Regions from separate parts of the Homo sapiens genome. Here region 1 is linked to region 2. Evidence: fine-mapped expression QTL. A gene starts in region 2. The other region holds a variant in brackets. All regions are shown on one strand. Distances are from middle to middle.

Region 1 (5,378 bases), 51 kb before region 2:
GAAATTCGATCTGGAAAACCTTTTATTTTGTATTTCCTAGTAGGTGTTGAGGGGAGGGGTGTGTTACAAAGAGCAGTGACTATATGGAAGAAGGGATGCATGAGTTAACAAATTATTGACTTTAAAAGAGGTATTTCTTACAAAAATCATCTAATTTGCATTCAACAAATATTAAAAATCCATTATGTGCTTAAGATGAGTTGCTAATATGGCAAAGGTTAAGGACATATAAATTAGAAAAGAGAACCTAGAGGACGTCGATTCTGGTTATTTACTCTGGCTAATTGTTCTAGAATAATTATCTTCATTATCCTAATGTGAAACACCAAGTAGGACTCTATGTGTTATGTTATGAAGAAAGATGTTTTGCTAACGAGATCCACACATATCTTTGATGTTCAAAGTGGGAATATAGTGTAGCAAGAAGAAAATTGTTGAAAATATTTCCAATTGTATATGTTATGCATATCATCTAAACATAAACATGATGCATTGAAAAAAATACTGTTGGCAAAGCAATTTAGAAATTCCAGAAAATAAGCCAGGCATGGTAGTGTGTGCCTGTAATCCCAGCACTTTGGGAGGCTGAGGCAGGCGGATCCCTTGAAGTCAGGAGTTCCAGACTAGCCTGGCCAACATGGTGAAACCCTGTCTCTACTGAAAATATAAAAATTAGCCAGGCGTGGTGGCATGCACCTGTAGTCCCAGCTACTCAGGCTGAGGCAGGAGAATTGCTTGAATCTGGGAGGTGGAGGTTGCAGTGAGCTGAGATCGCACCACTCCACTCCAGCCTGGGCGGCAGAGTAAGTGAGACTCCATCTCCAAAAAAAAAAAAAGAAAGAAAGAAATTCCAGAAAATACCTTTTCATTCAACTCTGAAATCAAAGAGTACACCATTGCTTTGTGTACTGTTTTTGACTTTTTTCTCTTTTCAGTTTTCAGCATATGCCAAGTACTGCCAAAGAGGTTCTTGCATTTGAAGGCAGGTCAGTTATCAGTGCGAAAATACTTACTGTGAGTCGATAGGGAATTTTTCCACCTGCCATTATCGGAAGTTATATTTGATGATACGTTCACTGAATCTGGGAAACCTTCACAGAATCCCCATTGTCTTAGCAGAAAGGATATCAATCATGAGTTATGCAATCTCTTGTGTAAAATTCACCCCTAAAGAGATGTATTAGATCTAGATTTTTGGCAGTAAACAGTTGGCTTTAATAGTCGTGACAGAAATCGAAATTTCCCTGTTTCCTGTTATTCTTTGAACTGGCATGTCAGCTTCTGTTTTAGGCTTTGTTGATAAGAAATATTTAAATCAAAGGAAGACTTTGAAGAAAAGGCAGTAACCTTGCTGCCATACCTGTAAACACAGGAGGCTTATTTAACATGATGCTTGAGAGCGTAGGTTTGGGGCAGCTTTTCCACCTGTCAGAGCTCAGTGGCCTTGGATAAGTTGCTTTCGTCTGTGAGGTTCAGGTTCCTCAACTGTAAAGAGATAAAAACCACATGTTCCGGTTTGCTTAGAACAGCCCTGGTTTACAGCTGTTATTCTGTGTAATTATTAATTGCACCCCCTTTCACTCTCAGAGGTGTTCTGGTTTCGATAAAATTACATAGTTACCCTAACCTACCTTGGAGAGTTGGTGTGAGGTTGAAGTAAATTAATGTTTGTGAAACCCTTAGCACAGTGCCTGGCACAGACTAGATGCTCAGATGATGATGATAAGTATTGTTAAGCTGATTGGTATTTCAAACCACGCTTCAAAGAAAATGATTCAATAGACAATGTCTGTTTTTATAAAAATTTGGCCACTCTCCCAATCATCTCGTCTTTTGTTCCACCCACATAGAATTTCCTGCCCAAGGCAATAAATTTGAGAGGTTTCAGCAGCTACTGACGAATTTCTGATTGTCATGGCTTTACAGGTTATCTAGGTGTGGCACTACCAGTGTTTATGCTATTGCTAGCTTGTTCATCGGGGTACACGTTAGGATATAGAACTTTTTCACAAATTAGATCTTATTTTCCACAAACAGCCCCATGAAACAGATTATTTTAATAGCTATTACTATTATTTTAATCTGGAAATGGAGACTCAGAAATATGAAATGGCTTTCTCAAGATCACATAGCTCGAAAGCACCAGGAAGCATGCGAAGGCGGGGCTCCTTGCAGGGAGCATGTGAAGGCGGGGCTCCTTGCAGGGAGCATGTGAAGGCGGGGCTCCTTGCAGGGAGCATGTGAAGGCGGGGCTCCTTG[CA/A]GCTCATTTCTTTTCATCGCACCATGCTGGTTAAGCAAAAGGGCAAGATTACTCAGTTACCTCAATTCCTCCTCATTATGCCCAATTTTGTCATCTCTTATTCCTCTTTGACTTGTCTGGTATGCTTCACTCAATTTTTTTTTCCCCCAAAAAAGTTTTTAAGTGCTACTTGGTCTCAGTATATGGATCCCATTCTTGGCCTAGGGCAGCTTACAGTCGAGAAGTGATTACTCCATGTCCAATCATGTGTTACTGGGTCTCTGTGAGTAATTTCAGGAAACTGTAGAAACACAAATGAGTCAATGCTCACTGCTCTGCAGTTATGGCACCTTCTTATTCCATGCCATTGCAGACAAAAATGAGAAAATTGGGGTCTGTCATTCCCACGCCTTTTTGCCTGCAAACCAGTGAGAATGTCTCCAATGACCCATTCCAGTTTCTCTTGCTGTTTCCATCCCACTACTCTATAATCAGGGTCTGTTTATACCTGCCTTCTCTTCTAGATTAATGGACAGCATCCCTATCTTGTTGATCTCTGTGTTTCCAGTATGATGCCAAGCACTTGGCACATGGAAAGGCTCAGGCGCCAGGGACTGTGCTCAGTGCTGTATGTGAATATATTCAGTATTTATTGCAACCATGCAAAGTAGCTTTGATTATGCCCATATCATGGATGAGAAAACTGTATCTTGGAGAGATTAGATCACTTGCCTAAGATCACATAGTTTTTAAATACTGAAACAAGATCTTTCTTTATTAAAACGCCTTTTATTGAAGTATAACTTACATAAAATAATCTATACATATTTAAAGTATACAACTTAATAAATTTTGACATATGTATACACACAGGAGACCATTACCATAATCAAGAGAGTGAACACATCTATCACCCCTAAAAGCAAAACCAGGATTTAAACCTAGACTTACGACTCTAGAGCTCATGTTTTTCCCCCAGTAATGACTGTATGGGGAGTAGAGCCTTTGCCACAGTCCTTTCCTCCTAACCATTCTCATTCTCTTATGGGGAGTTTTGCATTGTTGAGATAATACAAAGAGCATCTTTTACAACCCAATTGTCCATCAATAAAAAATGTGAATAAATTAGTACTGGAGTGGAATGTATACCCCAGTGAAATGAATGAATTACAGTTTCACACAACTACATGGATGTGTCTTAGAAAGATAATAGTAAGAAAAACACAAAGAGAATAATACTATTTTTGTAAAAGTCAAAGCAAGTTTATGCACGCACGCACACACACACACGCACACATATAACAAGGAGTAATTAGGAACACAAAATTCAGGCTAGTGGTCACCTCTGGGGAAGTAGGGAGATGGGATGGGGCATGGAGGGAGATGCAGGTTTTTAGTAATATTTTAGGTCATGGGTTGAGTAGTGAGTTCTTGAATATTCATTATGTTATATGATTTTAATACATAATTTGTTATTCTAAAATATGATTACAAACAACTTACTGTATCAGTTTAAACATATATGTTCTAATTAAGTATTTTCTTTCATTTGAGGAAAGGATCGCTTAATATGGGATAGTTAAGATCCAAAATATTTTAATTCACTGTGTGATAAGAAAGTTTAGAGCTCTTAGGGCCTGGTGCAGTGGCTCAAGCCTGTAATTCCAGCACTTTGGCAGCTGAGGCAGGAGGATGGCTTGAGCCTAGGAGTTCAAGACCAGCCTGGGCAATGTGCAGGACCCTGTCTCTACAGAAAGTTTTCAAAAATTAGCTGGGCATGGTGGCTTGTGCCGGTCATCCTAGTTACTCGGGAGGCTGAGGTGGGAGGATCGCTTGAACCCAGGAGTTTGAGTCTGCAGTGAGTTGTGATTCTGCCACTGCACTCTAGCCTGGGTAACAGAGTGAGACCCTGTCTCAAAAAAATAATAATACAATAAAAATAAATGAAAAATAAATAAATTAGCCAGGGACGCTGATGCACATCCATACTCCCAGCTACTTGGGAAACTGAGGCAGGAGGATTGCTTGAGCCCAGGAATCTGAGGCTGCCATGAGCTGTAATCACTGTGCTGCACTCTAGCCTGGGCAAGAGGGCAAGACCTCATCTCAAAAACAACAACAACAAAAGAAAGTTTAAAGCTCTTGATAAAGCAATTAGATTTGAGGTAAAGGGACTAATATAATACATATGAAAGAATGAACAATTAGGCTGGGCATGGTGGCTCACGCTTGTAATCCCAACACTTTGGAGGCTGAGGCGGGCGGATTACCTGAGGTCAAGAGTTTGAGACCAGCCTGGCCAATGTGGTGAAACCCCATCTCTACTAAAAATACAAAAATTAGCCAGGCATGGTGGCACGTGCCTGTAATCCCAGCTACTTGGGAGGCTGAGGCAGGAGAATTGCTTGAACCTGGGAGGCGGAGATGCAGTGAGCCAAGATTGCGCCACTACACTGCACTCTAGCCTGGGCGACAGAGTGAGACTCCGTCTCAAAAGAAAAAAAGAATGAACAATTAAAGTTACTTAATAATATGGATGTGGAAGTCACCTGTTGGCCATCATGGAGTTGCTGGATGAACCATGAACTGTGCTTCTACATGGATTCATTTCCACTACCCCCACTTTTTCTGTTGTTGTTGGCGCCAGGAGAAAAAAAAAAGAATGCACAGAGAACAGAAATCAGTGAGGGTCTCTTGTGTCTAAATCTACTAAAGACAGAAGAAACATATAGCCAAAAGGCTGCAGACGTTTTGGCACCCTATGAAACTATTAAGGATCTTGAAAACCAAGAGTCAACACAAGAGGTTTAATTCTGGGAGGAAGAGCATCAAAGACTAAGTGTCTTCCAAAAAGGACTGGAATGTATGTGGCTGTCTTCTTAAAGACATCAACTATATAGTTCTGTATAGTTGATATGTTCTATATAGTTTCATCTGTTCTCTATTTTCATGTAATAATTCTAAATGAATACTAAGTTTAGCTCTGGCTATAATTCAGTTTTCTAACTTTTACTAACAAATCAAAACAAAAAAGACTGAATTAATCTGTGTTTCTTAGTTAATCCCACTTTTGGATCAGTTGGCTCTTCTGAGAAAGAGAGCATATTTCGTATGAGAATATATGGGAAAGAGACCCTAT
Region 2 (5,378 bases):
CATTAAATGAAGTGATTATTATCTTGTGACAGACCTCAGTAACATATACAACAAAGCCAGTAGGAAAACATCACAAAATGCATTAGACCTGATTTTATGGAAGGGTGAAAAAGCCTTTTGAAATTGCATTGGAGCTAAACTGTGAGTGCACGCAAGTAAAACTAGCAGTCAGCAAGGCTATAAATTATCTACCACTTACCGTACAAACACAGTCATTTCGGCTCTATCTTCAATGAAGACATCTGACTCTAAAGGCCTGGGTGGATCAAATTGCTGTTCAGAGGGAATATACAGGGAAATGGTAATGGTAGACTCACTAAAAGGACCTGAACCAGGCTCCACGTAGCTTGTCACTGGAGCTGTCATCTTTATTTTCATCTCTGTGACATAAAAATGAAAGCAAATTTAGTGTATTTTTGACAGCTTTAAACATTTAACCTATTCTTTTTTGATCTGGGTTCCTTGATTTACTTCACATTGTTGACATATTTACCTTTAAGATAATTTTCATCTTAAAACAGTAAGGCCAAAATTACTCAATTGCTCACTGCCCACATTAAACCACTTTCTGTAATACTGATATTCTGGGTTAATAAATTCTTAATTTTTAGAGATAAAAGGGGAAATTAGAGATTACATGGTCAGTAAATTATTTTTTCTTACCATTCAGAAAATGAGGTCCCACAGGCTAAGAGACCTGCTAAAATATAAATAGCAGCAAAGCCAGACCAAAAGCTATGACTTGATGCTTCTAATCTTGGTACCTTCTTGCCTCCTGACGTCTCTGATCCTACCAGTCACCAAATTATCTTGAGGTGTTAGCCATAGAAAAGGACTTATCACGAGTTACACCAAACCCCAGTTCATCCAGCAAAATCAGAGAACAGAGGTTGAAAAGTAATACCCAGTGTAACCCTGGTCCTGAGGAGTCTTGTCTGAAAACAAGACAAGTCTTTGATGACTTGCTTATTTTTCCATTATAAAGGATATTTCTTTAATAAGCTAAAACTCAATAATAAGCCCGGGGACTCTTTCACAATATGCATAATTACAAGGAAAACTGCTTTTACCTTTCTCGTTTTTGCCTTGAATGTAGCTGTTCAGTTTCGTAAAGCCCGTCTGGATGGCTGAATCCCAGTCCATAGACTCCACGGACGTGCTGACCCACTTGGCTGGTCCATAGTGTCGGATCTCATAACTTCCGGGCTAAAGTGGAACAGAGAAAACTTCGAGAAGCAATTCTAAGAGGGTAGGAGTGAGATGCAAAAATACCGGTGCCATGATCTCGGGTCGACCTGGAGCCGTCCTGTCTAGGGGCTGCACCGCCCCGGGGTCCGGCCTGAGGTCCCCGCTCCTTAGGTCTGGGAGGTTCCCCTCCACGAGGTTCCCCTCCTTGCGATTAGGGACCGCAGCGGCCCCAACCCCACACGCTGGGGACTCGATTCACACTTTCAGACAAGCATCTATTACACCCCCTCGGTTCGGAGGGTTCCACCGCGCGTTCTGGGACGTAACCAGTTCCTCCCCGCCCCACCACCCCGCAAAGACAAGAAATTGAGATGGGACCTGCACTGGGGGTAGCGGGGAGGGTAGAGCTAAATGACCGGGGTTTCTCGTTTGCGTAGCATAGTGGGTAGGGACTGGGACCATTTAAAAAACTGTACTTTTTACTTAACTCTATGGGACCCGCTGGCCTCACTGCAAATCAGCCGGAAGGCGGGCCCAGCCCCTCCGCTCCCGAGTCGGCGCCTACCTGGGGGCCGGCGTCCTCCGGGGCCTTCCAGCCCGGCGTCTCCACAGCTTGGGCCGCCGCGTCCTCGGCCGCCCCGGGGTCTGGCTGGAGCGGCTCGGCCATGGGCGGCGCTGACGCTCTGGGAGCCTGGTCAGCCGCGCAGAGGCCCCGCACCCCGGGCCGCCCCGCCTGCGTGTGCGCGCCCCGCCGAGGCCCCGAGTCCCCGCTCCGCAGACCCGGTCCCTCCTCCCGGCCGGGCTGGAGACCCGAGCCCACCCGATGCGTCTGCCTCTGGACCGCGAGGGGGCGCCGCCACCAAGGCGGGGCCGGCTCACGACCCCGGACAGCTCCGGCCGGAGTTGCGCGTCCTGCCCCCGCCCCTCCGCGGCGACAGGGAGCCGCACCTCGCTTCGGCCCGCCTTCTTTTGAGGCACTTCCGCCCCCGCCCCGCCTTTGTTTTTGAAGGAAAGGCACACACAGGTGGCCCCGCGGGCAGTAGGGGGTGGCGCTGTTTCTGTGCAACCGGTTTGGGAACCTCTGCCGCGGCCCCGCCCGCGCTGGGAACCGCGGGCGCTGAGCCGCCTCGAGGGTGTCCCAGCGCACCGCAGGCAGAGAAAGGCAGGAGGTGGCGGCTGGCGACCCGACCCCCGCGGCCCCTGCCCGCACTCCTGGGGCTCAGCCAGGGCGAATGGCCGTACTCATCCCAAGAAGTTGTCCTAGGTCCCAGACAGCTTTCAGGGTCCCTTGCGGAGGAGGTGGTGGGACCACAGACACATGGAGAGAATCTGGAACTGTTCTGGTTTCTGAACTTTTCCCCGACAGGACCCCAGACCCTCTGAGTCATCCCCGCAGGCTTAACGAGACTCGGGGAGAGTTAGTGCCGAGGCCAGACACTAGTGCTTTTCAAGAATTTTGGTTACCAGGGCTTTCCCGAGCCGAGTGGGGTGCGGCTCTGTTCCCCAGCACCCCCTTTCCGCCGGCCAGGCCGACTCCGCGTTACTGTCCCCTGCGGCGGGGACCCGGCACGGCTCCGGCGCCCCCCAGAGGACTCCCATCGTGGGCAGCCAGAGCTCCGAGGCTCTCCGGGGCGACGTGACCGCCGCAGAGGCAGCAGGCACTCCCCACGCGAAAGCCAACGGACAGGAGGGTGGCCACGTGAAAAGCAATGGTGACATCCCCCAAGGGTGAAGGGGAGTAGGCCCCTGTGAACAGAAGAGGCAGCCGGGACCATTGGCAATGCCATGGAGCCAGCACCCCCTAGCCAGGGTGCTGAGGCCAAAGGGGAGGCTCCCTCCCTCGCAAGGAGACTTCCAAGAAGACGAAATTGCCTTTCAAGGCCAGGCACGGTGGCTCACGCCTGTAATCCCTTCATTTTGGGAGGCCAAGACAGGGGTGATCGCTTGAGCCCAGGAGTTCGAGACCAGACTGGGCAACATGGCGAAAACCCGTCTCTACAAAAATACAATAAAATAGCGTTGATAGTAGAGTGGAGAGCATAGCTGCCTTCCAAAAAAAAAAAAAAAAAAAAAAAAGCTGAGTGTGCTGGGGTTGTGATCTCAGCTACTCGGGAGGCTGAGGTGGGAGGATCGGCTTGAGCCTGGGGAGGTCGAAGCTGCAGTGAGCCGAGATTGCGCCACTGCACTCTAGCTTGGGTAACAGAGTGATACCCTGTCTAAAATAAATAAATAAATAAATAAATAAATAAATAAATAAATAAATAAATAATTATCTTTCAAGAAGGGTTTCTAAGAGCAGCTTGTCCTTCAAGAGAAATGGGAAGGAGGGTGGGGTGACTCTTCTGCCTCCTCACCTATGGAGGAAGAACAGGAGTGGGGGAAGATCAATGCCTGCAGCGACAAGGGCGCTGCCCAGGAAGGGAAGGCTGTTGCCACCCCTGAGAGCCAGGAGCCCCAGGCCAAGGGCGCAGAGGCAGTACTGCCTCAGAAGAAGAGGCAGGGCCCCAAGCTACAGAGCTGTCCACTCCCTCGGGGCGGAGAGTGGCCCTACACCAGCCCACGCTGAGCAGAATGAGTAGCTGGGTGGGCCAGGTGGGTGATCTCTAAGCTGCAAAAACTGCTGTTCTTGTGAGGTTACTGCCTGGACCTGGTGCCCTGGCTGCCCTCCTGTGCCCAGAAAGGAAGGGGCTATTGCATCCTACCAGCTACATTCCCTTTCCTTCTCTCCCTCCTGTGGATTCTCCAATCGGCCATGTGGCTTTCCTCGTAAGGCCAGTTGAAGACGGTCCCCCACAGCCTCCCAAGTTAGATTAGTGATATGAAATGTGCCTTTCCCTGGCCCTGCCTCCTTCCCTGTCCCCAGCCCTGCAGAAGGCAATTTTTGGTTTTCTTCCCCAATTCTTTTCCAAGTAGGTTTTGTTTACCCTACTCCCCAAATCCCTGAGCCAGAAGTTGGGTGCTTAAACTCCCAAACCTCGAGGGTCCGGCCTCCCCGCTGTTGAGTTTTTACTCTGGTGCTGTGCCTAGTGGCACCTGGGCCGGGCAGGGGGGCACTGCCCTGCCTAGGGTTCTATTCAAGTTCCAACCTTCAGCTTGTGAATCAACTGTGTCTCTTTTTTGACTCGGTAAGCACATGTTAGGCTTTGGGGCCAGGGAGAGGTCTGTAATGTGAAATAACTTCTTCTTGCCTTTTCTTCTCTCATTTTTATGAATAACTTTTAATGGCCAAACCCCAGATTTGTATTCTTTTTTTTTCTAACTGCTACAACCATTCTCTTCCACCTGGTTTTATTATAACAATTGGAAAAGGAATAAATATCCCTTAAATTTTTTTTTGTTAGATGTATTCTTTATTTTTTCCAAGAGATTTATTAAGATATAATTCATATACCATATAGTTCACCCATTTAAAGTGTACTAGTCAATGGTTTTTAGGATCTTTAGATCTGGGCAACCATCATCACAAGGACTGGGCAACCATCATCACAAGGTGAGAACATTTTCATCACTTCCCACCCTTAAAGAAACTCTATAACCTTTAGCCACCACCTCCCAATTCCCCATTCCCTATGCCTAGACAACTACTAATTTGTTCTCTGTCTCTATAGTTTTGTCTATTTGGAACATTTCATATGAATGGACTCATAATAGTACGTGGTCCTTTGTGACTGGTTTCTTTAACTTGGCAAAGTGTTTTCGAGGTTCATCTGTGTTGTGGCAGGTACTCCATTTCTTTTTATAGCTGATTAATAGTCCATTGGATAAACATTTTATCAACTTATCAGATGAGGGACATTTGGGCCATTTTCAACTTTTGGCTATTATAAATAAAGCTGCTCTACATGTTTATGTACATGTTTCTGTGTGCATGTATGTTTTCATGTCTCTTGGGTAAACATCTAGGAGTAGAAGTTCTGGGTCAAATGGTAACTCTATGTTTAACTTTCTGAGAAACTGCCAGACTGTTTTTTCGCCACTTCACATTCTCACTAACAAGGTGTGAGCATTCTATTTCTCCACATCCCCATCAACACGTGTTTTTATCTGGCTTTTGGATTATAATCATCCTAGTGGGTGTATGCTATGGTTTGAATGTTCATCTCTTCAGAAACTCATGTTGAAACTGAATCCCCAATAGGGCAGTATTGAAAGATGGGGCCTTAAGAGGTGATTGAGTGATGAGGGCTCTG

What was found. PIP is the estimated chance that this variant, and not a neighbour inherited with it, causes the effect. A credible set is the group of variants that fine-mapping cannot tell apart.
Region 1: its variant is the best candidate, but not a certain one, in a credible set for the expression of HEBP2 in CD4 T cells (BLUEPRINT, PIP 0.71).

The regions. Positions count from the first base shown.
Region 1 is chr6:138,452,342-138,457,719 of GRCh38, reverse strand. All of the region lies in intron 3 of NHSL1 (NHS like 1), which reads left to right. Among named protein-coding and RNA genes, the nearest start is that of MIR3145, 20 kb to the right of the region's middle. The variant CA/A (reference allele first, on the strand shown) is at 2,260.
Region 2 is chr6:138,400,973-138,406,350 of GRCh38, reverse strand. It overlaps HEBP2 (heme binding protein 2), which reads right to left and starts at 2,128. Exons shown (of 4, transcript NM_014320.3): 1 at 1,754-2,128; 2 at 1,071-1,206; 3 at 200-380. The coding sequence starts at 1,855. It also overlaps the pseudogene MARCKSL1P2. RefSeq lists enhancers at 1,872-2,392, 2,914-3,434 and silencers at 1,663-2,512, 2,643-2,712.